2 linked regions of the Homo sapiens genome follow. The protein of the gene in region 2 purifies or fractionates together with the protein of the main gene of each other region. This does not show direct contact. Each region holds a gene or a part of one and is shown on either strand. Other genes may lie near its edges.

Region 1 (3,913 bases), on a different chromosome or scaffold from region 2:
TGTAGTCTAATGGGTGTCCCTCTTTGTTGTTTTATACTATGACTGTGGTTCTTAAACTTTGGAGAACTTGGAGAATGGGGACAGCCAAGCCCAGGTCCTATCCTACTTGAGTGAGCCAAGTCTGGGCTTCTGTTTTCTTTATTAGCCACACCAGGTGATTCTGATACACATCAGTGTTTAGAACCACCGTATTATGAAATTAACTTCCTTTCTTTCTCTCCTCTCTCTCTGTCTCTCTCTCTCTCTCAATCACTTTCTCTATCTCTAAGAATAAACAACTGGGTGCAGTAGCTCACACCTGTAATCCCAGCACTTTGAGAGGCTGAGGCGGGAGGACTGCTTGATGCCAGCAGTTCAAGACCAGCCTGGCCAATATAGTAAGACCACCCCTCCCCCATCTCCACAAATTTTTTTTTTTTTTTGAGATGGAGTCTCGCTCTGTCGCCCAGGCTGGAGTGCAGTGGCGCGATCTCAGCTCACTGCAAGCTCCACCTCCTGGGTTCACGCCATTCTCCTGACTCAGCCTCCCGAGTAGCTGGGACTACAGGCGCCTGCCACCACACCCGGCTAATATTTTTGTATTTTTAGTAGAGACAGGGTTTCACTGTGTTAGCCAGGATGGTCTCGATCTCCTGACCTCATGATCCGCCTGCCTCGGCCTCCCAAAGTGCTGGGATTACAGGCGTGAGCCACCAGGCCCGGCCTCCACAAAAATTTTTAAAAATTAGCTGGACATGGTAGCATATGCCTGTAGTCCTAGCTACTGAGGAGGCTGAGGTGGGAGGATCGCTTGAGCCTGGGAGGTCAAGGCCACAGTGAACTGTGATTGAGCCACTGTACTCCAGCCAGGGTGATAGAGTGAGACCTTGTCTCAAAAATAAATGAATAAATAAAACTGGGCACAGTGGCATATTCCTGTAGTCCCATGTACTTCAGAAGCAGAGGCAGGAGGATCACTTGAACCCAGGAGTTCAAGCCCAGACTGGGCAACATAGTGAGATACCCTTCTCTCTCTCTCTTTTTTTTTCTTTTGAGACAGAGTCTCGCTGTGTCACCCAGGCTGGAGCGTAGTGGCGTGATCTTGCCTCACTGCAACCTCTGCCTCTCAGTTTCAAGTGATTCTCCTGTCTCAGCCTCCCAAGTAGCTGGGACTACAGGCACCTGCCACCATGCCTGGCTAATTTTTGTATTTTTAGTAGAGACAGGGTTTCACTATGTTGGCCACTATGTTGGTCTTGAACTCCTGACCTCATGATCCGCCCGCCTCAGCCTCCCAAAGTGCTGGGATTACAGGCGTAAGCCACTGCACCTGGCCTGATACCCGTCTCTTAAAAAATACAAATAAAAAAGAATAAACAGTTTAAGCTAAGAAAGGAGAAGATTCTTGGTGCAGTAGTGGGTGCTTGAGAAAGAGAGAGGTTCTTTTCTTTGGTAATAAGATTTAATTTCCAAAGAAAACAACTCTAATGTCATAGAGCAGTTTCCCAAACCCTGAGTACTGCTCCAGGGCTTTCTTCAACACCCTGGCAGTTGTGGAATTGACTTGTGGGTACACTGCCTGAGTGTACTCAGAAGCTAGAGCAACTGAGCTGGGTTCAGAGTGATTCAGTTCGGTTGAGTCCCCTCCAAGTTCAGGATCACACTGCCACTTGCATCACTCTCCTGCCTTGGCTGCCTCTGAAGAAGGAAACCAAATGGCCGTTGGTGAAGAGAGCTTCTCAGACTCACTGGGAATGAGACCCTCACATACCAATAGAGAAATGGAGAGGCCTGCTATTAAATGAAGAGGAAGACTTAGTGACTACCTTTCTTTGCTTTCCTATTTCAAGAGCTGGTACCTCTAGTGATTCCCAAAAGCTCTACATAAAAGCTTGGGTCAAAGGTATATAGGCTTTTGTCTGGCAGCCTGGCAGTTGCAAAGGCCCCTCACAGTCAGTGGGCCCTGCTAGAAAGTAGTAAGGTAGGAGAGGGGATTTGACTCCAGAGGTGGGGCTCAGACACCAGACCAAATTGAGAACTAGCTAAAACAGGGTCCAGGGCAGAAGCAACTTTCCATAAGACATGGCCCACCAATGTGCCATGTCAGTTTACCATTGCTATGGCAACACCTGGAAGTTACTGCCCCTTTCCATTGCAATGACCCAATGACCCAGAAATTACCACTTTTTCTAGAAATTTATGCATAAACTGCCCCTTAATTTGCACGTAATTAAAAGTGGGTATAACTATAATGGCAAAACTGCCTCTGAGCTGCTACTTCTGGGCATACTGCCTATGAGGTAGCCCTGCTCTGCAAGGAGCAGTACCTCTGCTGCACTGTACTGGGCTGCTTCAACAAAAGTTGCTGTCCAACACCACTGGCTCACCTTTGGGCAAAGCCAAGAACCCTCCCAGGTTAAGCCTCAATTTGGGGGCTCACCTGCCCTGCATCAGTATGGGTTAGCTTAGCTCAGCTGCTTCAGTGAGCACATGCTTGGTCATATCTATCTCAACTGCACATATGTAGACCCAACCACTGTTGGTCTTTTTCTAATCCAGTGCTCTCTTATCAATTGGCTATATCAATTGGCTATATATCAATCTCCTATACCAGGAGAGAGCAACTTCTTTGGTACTCAGTGCTTCACAACAGCCATAGGTATGATATTTGAGGAGACAAGACAAAACTGAGGAGGAGAAAGGTAAAAAATAAAAATGAAGGCCGAGCATGGTGGCTCATGCCTGTAATCCCAGCACTTTGGGAGGCCAGGGCAGGCAGATCACGAGGTCAGGAAATTGAGACCATCTTGGCCAACATGGTGAAACCTCGTCTCTACTAAAAATACAAAATTAGCTGGGCGTGGTGCTGTGTGCCTGTAGTCCCAGCTACTCAGGAGGCTGAGGCAGGAGACTCGCTTGAACCCCGGAGGTGGAGGTTGCAGTGAGCTGAGATCACGCCACTGCACTCTGGCCTGGCGACAGAGCAAGACTCTGTCTCAGAAAAAAAAAAAAAAAAGGAAAGGAGAAGGAAAGGCAGAGACAGCCAGAAAAAGTAATATAAAGAGAGACAAAAAGTTTTGGCAAAAATAATTACCTTCATTAGTGTTCCAGGTCTCTTAATCCCTACCTTCATCTTTCAGAAATCAATTGCTGTTGCTTTGAAACTGAAGTGATAAAAAGTTAACATGGGGAGTATAATATACTGTGATCTACAGGAACTCAGTTCCCACAATAATTTCTAGTTTTCATGAGAAAGCCTATAAAGATTCACAAGGCCCTGCCAAGCTAAAACAGCAAAGAATGGATTTTGCTTACAATTAGTTTGTTCGCTGCCTCTTTAATCTTGTCTACTTTGGCTTCTGAGAGTCCTTTGACATTGCATAGAGCTCTTCTTGTTGTCATCTGTATACCTTTGATGGTACAGATTCCTACTGATTTCAGTTTCTTAATGTCAGCCACGTTCTGTAAATTAAAGAATGGGCACAGCAGACTGATAAGATGCCAGCCTGCAAGGCTCCCATACTATGTCATGTGTTTCTGTGTCCATCTCCTTCCACCATGATGCCAATTTTATACAAGCTGCCAGGTGGAACCCACCCACCATGTAGCCAAATGTTCTGGAAATATCTGAGTAGAACATACTCAGCAGGCTGCCAAATGTTCTGACTGTGCCCTGATTTCCCAAGAATGTTAGTGAGACCATGGCAATGTAACAAGGAATTCAAAAGAAAAGCCTGTTGGTGGAAAAGCTAACAAATTTATCACACATTCACCCCCTCAGTTCAGCTCCTTCCTTCTACAGAACTTCATTACCAACATGTTCTTTTAAATTTGTAAAGATTTTTTTTTTCCTCTGCCCCTGGAGAATGCAAATAACTACATCACCAAAGGACCAGGATTTTCTCTTGCTTCTATTTTCTAAAACCACTGAAAG
Region 2 (3,913 bases):
TAAGCATCCATTTGGTGCCAGGTAACACTCTGGGTACTGACGCTATAACAGTCAACAAAGAAGAAAAAGCATTCCTCCCACCAGGAACAGACAATGAGCACGTGCATATACTGAACATACAGTACATCAGCTAGTGAGTGACACACACTGTGGAAAACAACAAAGCAGTGATGGAGGAGTGGAAGCGCTAGGGAAGGTGACTGCAATTGCAAATAGGCTTTCAGGGAAGCTGTTCTGAGAAAGTAACCACGGAACAAACACAGAAGGAGATAAGGATGCAAGCTTGTGCGTATGTGGGGGAAGAATATTCCACGTGGATGGCACAGCAACTGGTGACAGAGGCTGGAGCGCACAGGAATGAGGAGGCAGAGAAGGAAGGTGGGATCAGGGAGGTAATGGCCTAATTGTACAAATAGGTCATTGCAGAAGTGACTCAGTTAGAACCACTGAAAAATTTTAGGTTGCGGAATGACAGGAATTTATATAACAATAGGACCATGGTCACAGCTGTACTGAGAACAGACTGATGAGGGTTAAGGGCAGATGCTGGGAATCCAGCTAGGAGGCTACCGCAATAATCCAGGTGGCTCGGACTGGGGTGGTAGTGGTGGTGGTGGTGATGGGCTAACTAATGGTCAGATGCTGTATACGGTGTATCGTTTAGATCCAAACTAGAGGACCTGAATATGAGTTATAAGTCAAAAGGAAGAATCAAGGATGACTCCAAACATCTCTTCACTTGAGACCACATGGTACAGTTTTGACAACCATAAACCGAATAACCTTACATTCCAAAGTTGCATTGTGAATTACAGTTTTAAAATGTTGGCAATCTAGAAAGTCTTCTAGCAGAAAACTGTAGAAAAGAGGAACACTGGGTGATGAGGACAATACCTTGGAGCTCTCCTGTGGGCTCCATTCTTCCTATAGTGAAAGGAACCATAGATCTAGTCCCTTAAATGGACTTGATTAGGTGGGAACAGGCAGGAGAAGCAAAGCAAACACACAGAGGCCTAATAAAGTGTTTCAGGAAGATTTGGGGACACACCGACTTACCTGAGACATTATTCTGCAATTTCCAATGGCCAACAGAGTCCCCTTTCCAGGTTCTTATCTTAGAGATGGGCAGTGTCCTGAGGGCACAGAAAGGCAGGAAAAAGCAGTCATGAAAAATCGGGCTTATCTTGCGGCACCTGTCACACACCTTAATGGAAAAGCACACTGGTAATCACTCGCCGGAGCGTCAATCTCTCCCTGGGAAGGAACAGGGTGTTTCTCCGCAAGGGCTATTTACCAGGTGCCACCTGCGGGGAAAATCAATTATTCTGTATACAAAAGACTCATAAAACAACGGTAACAACTTTATCAGCTCGTTCAGTCTTCACCACTTTGCAAGGTGTGCATTCATATTATTCCAGATTTTTTTTTTTTTTTTTTTGAGACGGAGTCTCGTTCTGTCTCCAGGCTGGAGTGCAATGGAGCGACCTCGACTCACTGCAACCTCTGCCTCCCGGGTTGAAGCGATTCTCCTACCTCAACCTCTCGAATAGCTGGGATTATAGACACGTGCCACCACGCCCAGCTAATTTTTTTTTGTATTTTTAGTAGAGACGGCGTTTCGCCATGTTCGTTAGGCTGGTGCGGTGGCTTACGCCTTTAATCCCAGCACTTCGGAAGGCGGAGGCGGGCGGATCGCTTGAGGTCGAGTTCTAAACCAGATTTATTTTTTAAAATGAAGACAAAACTGAAATTCCGAGATACTGAACCCATTTGTTCAAGGTTGCACAACTGAAAGCGCCGGCTTCATGACGACATAACCCAAAAAAAACTGTAGCTGGCGTCTGCTCTCGCGCCCACTTCGCTCTCACAACAGTGCCAAGAGGTCGGCGCCGTCATCACCCCGCGTTTACACGGCTCAACAGGAAGGCCAGGAAATGCCCAAGGCCCCGGCCGTGGTCAAACCGCGCGCGGACCCAGGGCCTTAGCCCCGCCGTCGCCGCGACCCACACTTGCCGGAGTCCTCAGCAGGGCCTCACCGTCCCGCAGGCGCCCCGAGCCCGCGCCTCCGCGGACCTGACGCGCCGCGTAGCTGGTGAGCGGGTAACGGCGGCCGACCTCCGGGAACGACACTGCCCCAAACCGTTCCTTAGCTTGGAAGCCGCCGCCAGGCCTGAAGCTATCGCGGGACTGACCCAGTGCACCGCCCACGGCGAACCACATTTCCCAGAATCCTCCCCCTGCGGTACAAATGTCCCGGAAGCCGCGAACCGCCGGCACCCGAAGACCACACTTCCCAAGGGTCTCTGCGGCTGCGCGGACCTGGTGCGCCGCGGGCAAACCGGTCACGGCTTTGTAAGTAGCTTAACCGCCTGGGGCCGTCGACCTAGAGCCGGCCAGCTAGGACCATGCGCAAATTGTCCTGGGGCACACAGTCGTCCTCTGGTGAACGATACAACTCGAAACCAAGGGACACCCTCTACTTATAAGGGCCATGGCGCCCGGACCAAGAAATTACATTTCCCAGAAAACTGCAGCCGTGCCAAGGTCTTCCGGGTCATTCCTGCGCTCACACAAACGTTTCCCTCCGAGACATGGGCAGCCCTTGCTGGTACCGCGCAAGTGCTCGCCGTTGCTAGCAAAGGGGCTCCTCTCATCCCAAACCCTGCCGCTATGCTGTTCACCTTCAGGTCTTTTTTTTTTTTTTTTTTTGGCACTCATTTGCCCAAGACGATAACTCACAAAACGCCCTGTGGCCCGACTGTCACGACTGTAGTTCGCCAACCAAGGGCATTTCCTGGAAATGCAAGGGGACACGTATCTGTGACACTAATGGCCGTTCTGACGTGCGTTACGCCCCTGGAAGGACTTGGAAATACTGAACTTGAGTGAGCACTGGGAGGATGGAGACCCTCATCCTGGGAGGAGTCACTCCTCCCGCAGCCATCACAGCCTGACGCCCCCTCTCCCCAGAAGTGCTTCTTAGGCCCACCCAAAAGGGCAATGGACCTCTCTGTATGCAAGCCAGAGCAGTCTACTGTTTGTGTATATTTGGGTTGTTTACTTTCTTTTTAACACTTAAATGTTAATTGACTTCAATCATTTTTAAAATTATAAATAGTGTCGCTATAGACTTTTTTGTACTTATTAAGTACTGACCTGCATGATCTTCGTGAAGCAGTGCTTCTGTTACCAGAAAGGGGTCCGGATCCGACCCCAAGAGAGAGTTCTTAGAGCTCACGCAAGAAAAAATCCATGGGAGAGCACAGTGCAAAGCCAAAGCAAGTGTATTAAGAAAGTAAAGAAACAATGGGTACTCCATTGTTAGAGCAGCAGCTTGGGCTGCTGGACTAGGGATACTTGTATTTATTGCTTGATGATGTGCTAAACAAGGGTGGATTATTCATGAGTTTTCCAGGAAAGAGGTGGGCAATTTCAATTTCTCGGAGCTGAGGGCTTCCCAGCTTTTTGAACCATACAGGGTAACTTCTGAACCTTACCATGGCATTTGTAAATTGCCATGGCACTGATGAGCGTTTCTCTTAGCGTGCTAATGCATATAATTAGCATATAACCGAGAGGTGAAGCCAGCTGGGCTTCTGGATCAGGTGGGGCCTTGGAGAACTTTTCTGTATAGCTGAAGGATTGTAAATACACCAATCAGTGCTCTGTGTCTAGCTAAAGGTTTGTAAATGCACCAGTCAGCACTCTGTAAAAACGGACCAAACAGCACTCTGTAAAATAGACCAATCAGCGCTCTGTAAAATGGACAAATCAGCAGGATGTGGGCGGGGCCAAATAAGGGAATAAAAACGGGCCACCCGAACAACCAGCGGCAACCGCGCTGGGGTCTACTTCCCAGGTGTGGGATGTTTGTTCTTTTGCTCTTTGGGTCTGCACTACCTTTATGAGCTGC

The links.
Region 1: the proteins of ZNF302 (region 2) and DMC1 purify together in Homo sapiens (affinity purification with mass spectrometry; 2 studies listed by BioGRID and IntAct, with this or other methods). This does not show direct contact.

What each region holds. Positions count from the first base shown.
Region 1 is NC_000022.11:38,563,296-38,567,208, forward strand, and holds part of DMC1 (meiotic recombination protein DMC1/LIM15 homolog), read right to left. Parts: intron 3,442-3,913; coding exon 3,295-3,441; intron 1-3,294. UniProt on the Homo sapiens protein: Participates in meiotic recombination, specifically in homologous strand assimilation, which is required for the resolution of meiotic double-strand breaks.
Region 2 is NC_000019.10:34,675,957-34,679,869, reverse strand, and holds the start of ZNF302 (zinc finger protein 302), read right to left. Parts: upstream 2,193-3,913; 5' UTR 1,767-2,192; intron 1,134-1,766; 5' UTR 1,066-1,133; coding exon 1,057-1,065; intron 43-1,056; coding exon of another isoform or gene 1-42. UniProt on the Homo sapiens protein: May be involved in transcriptional regulation.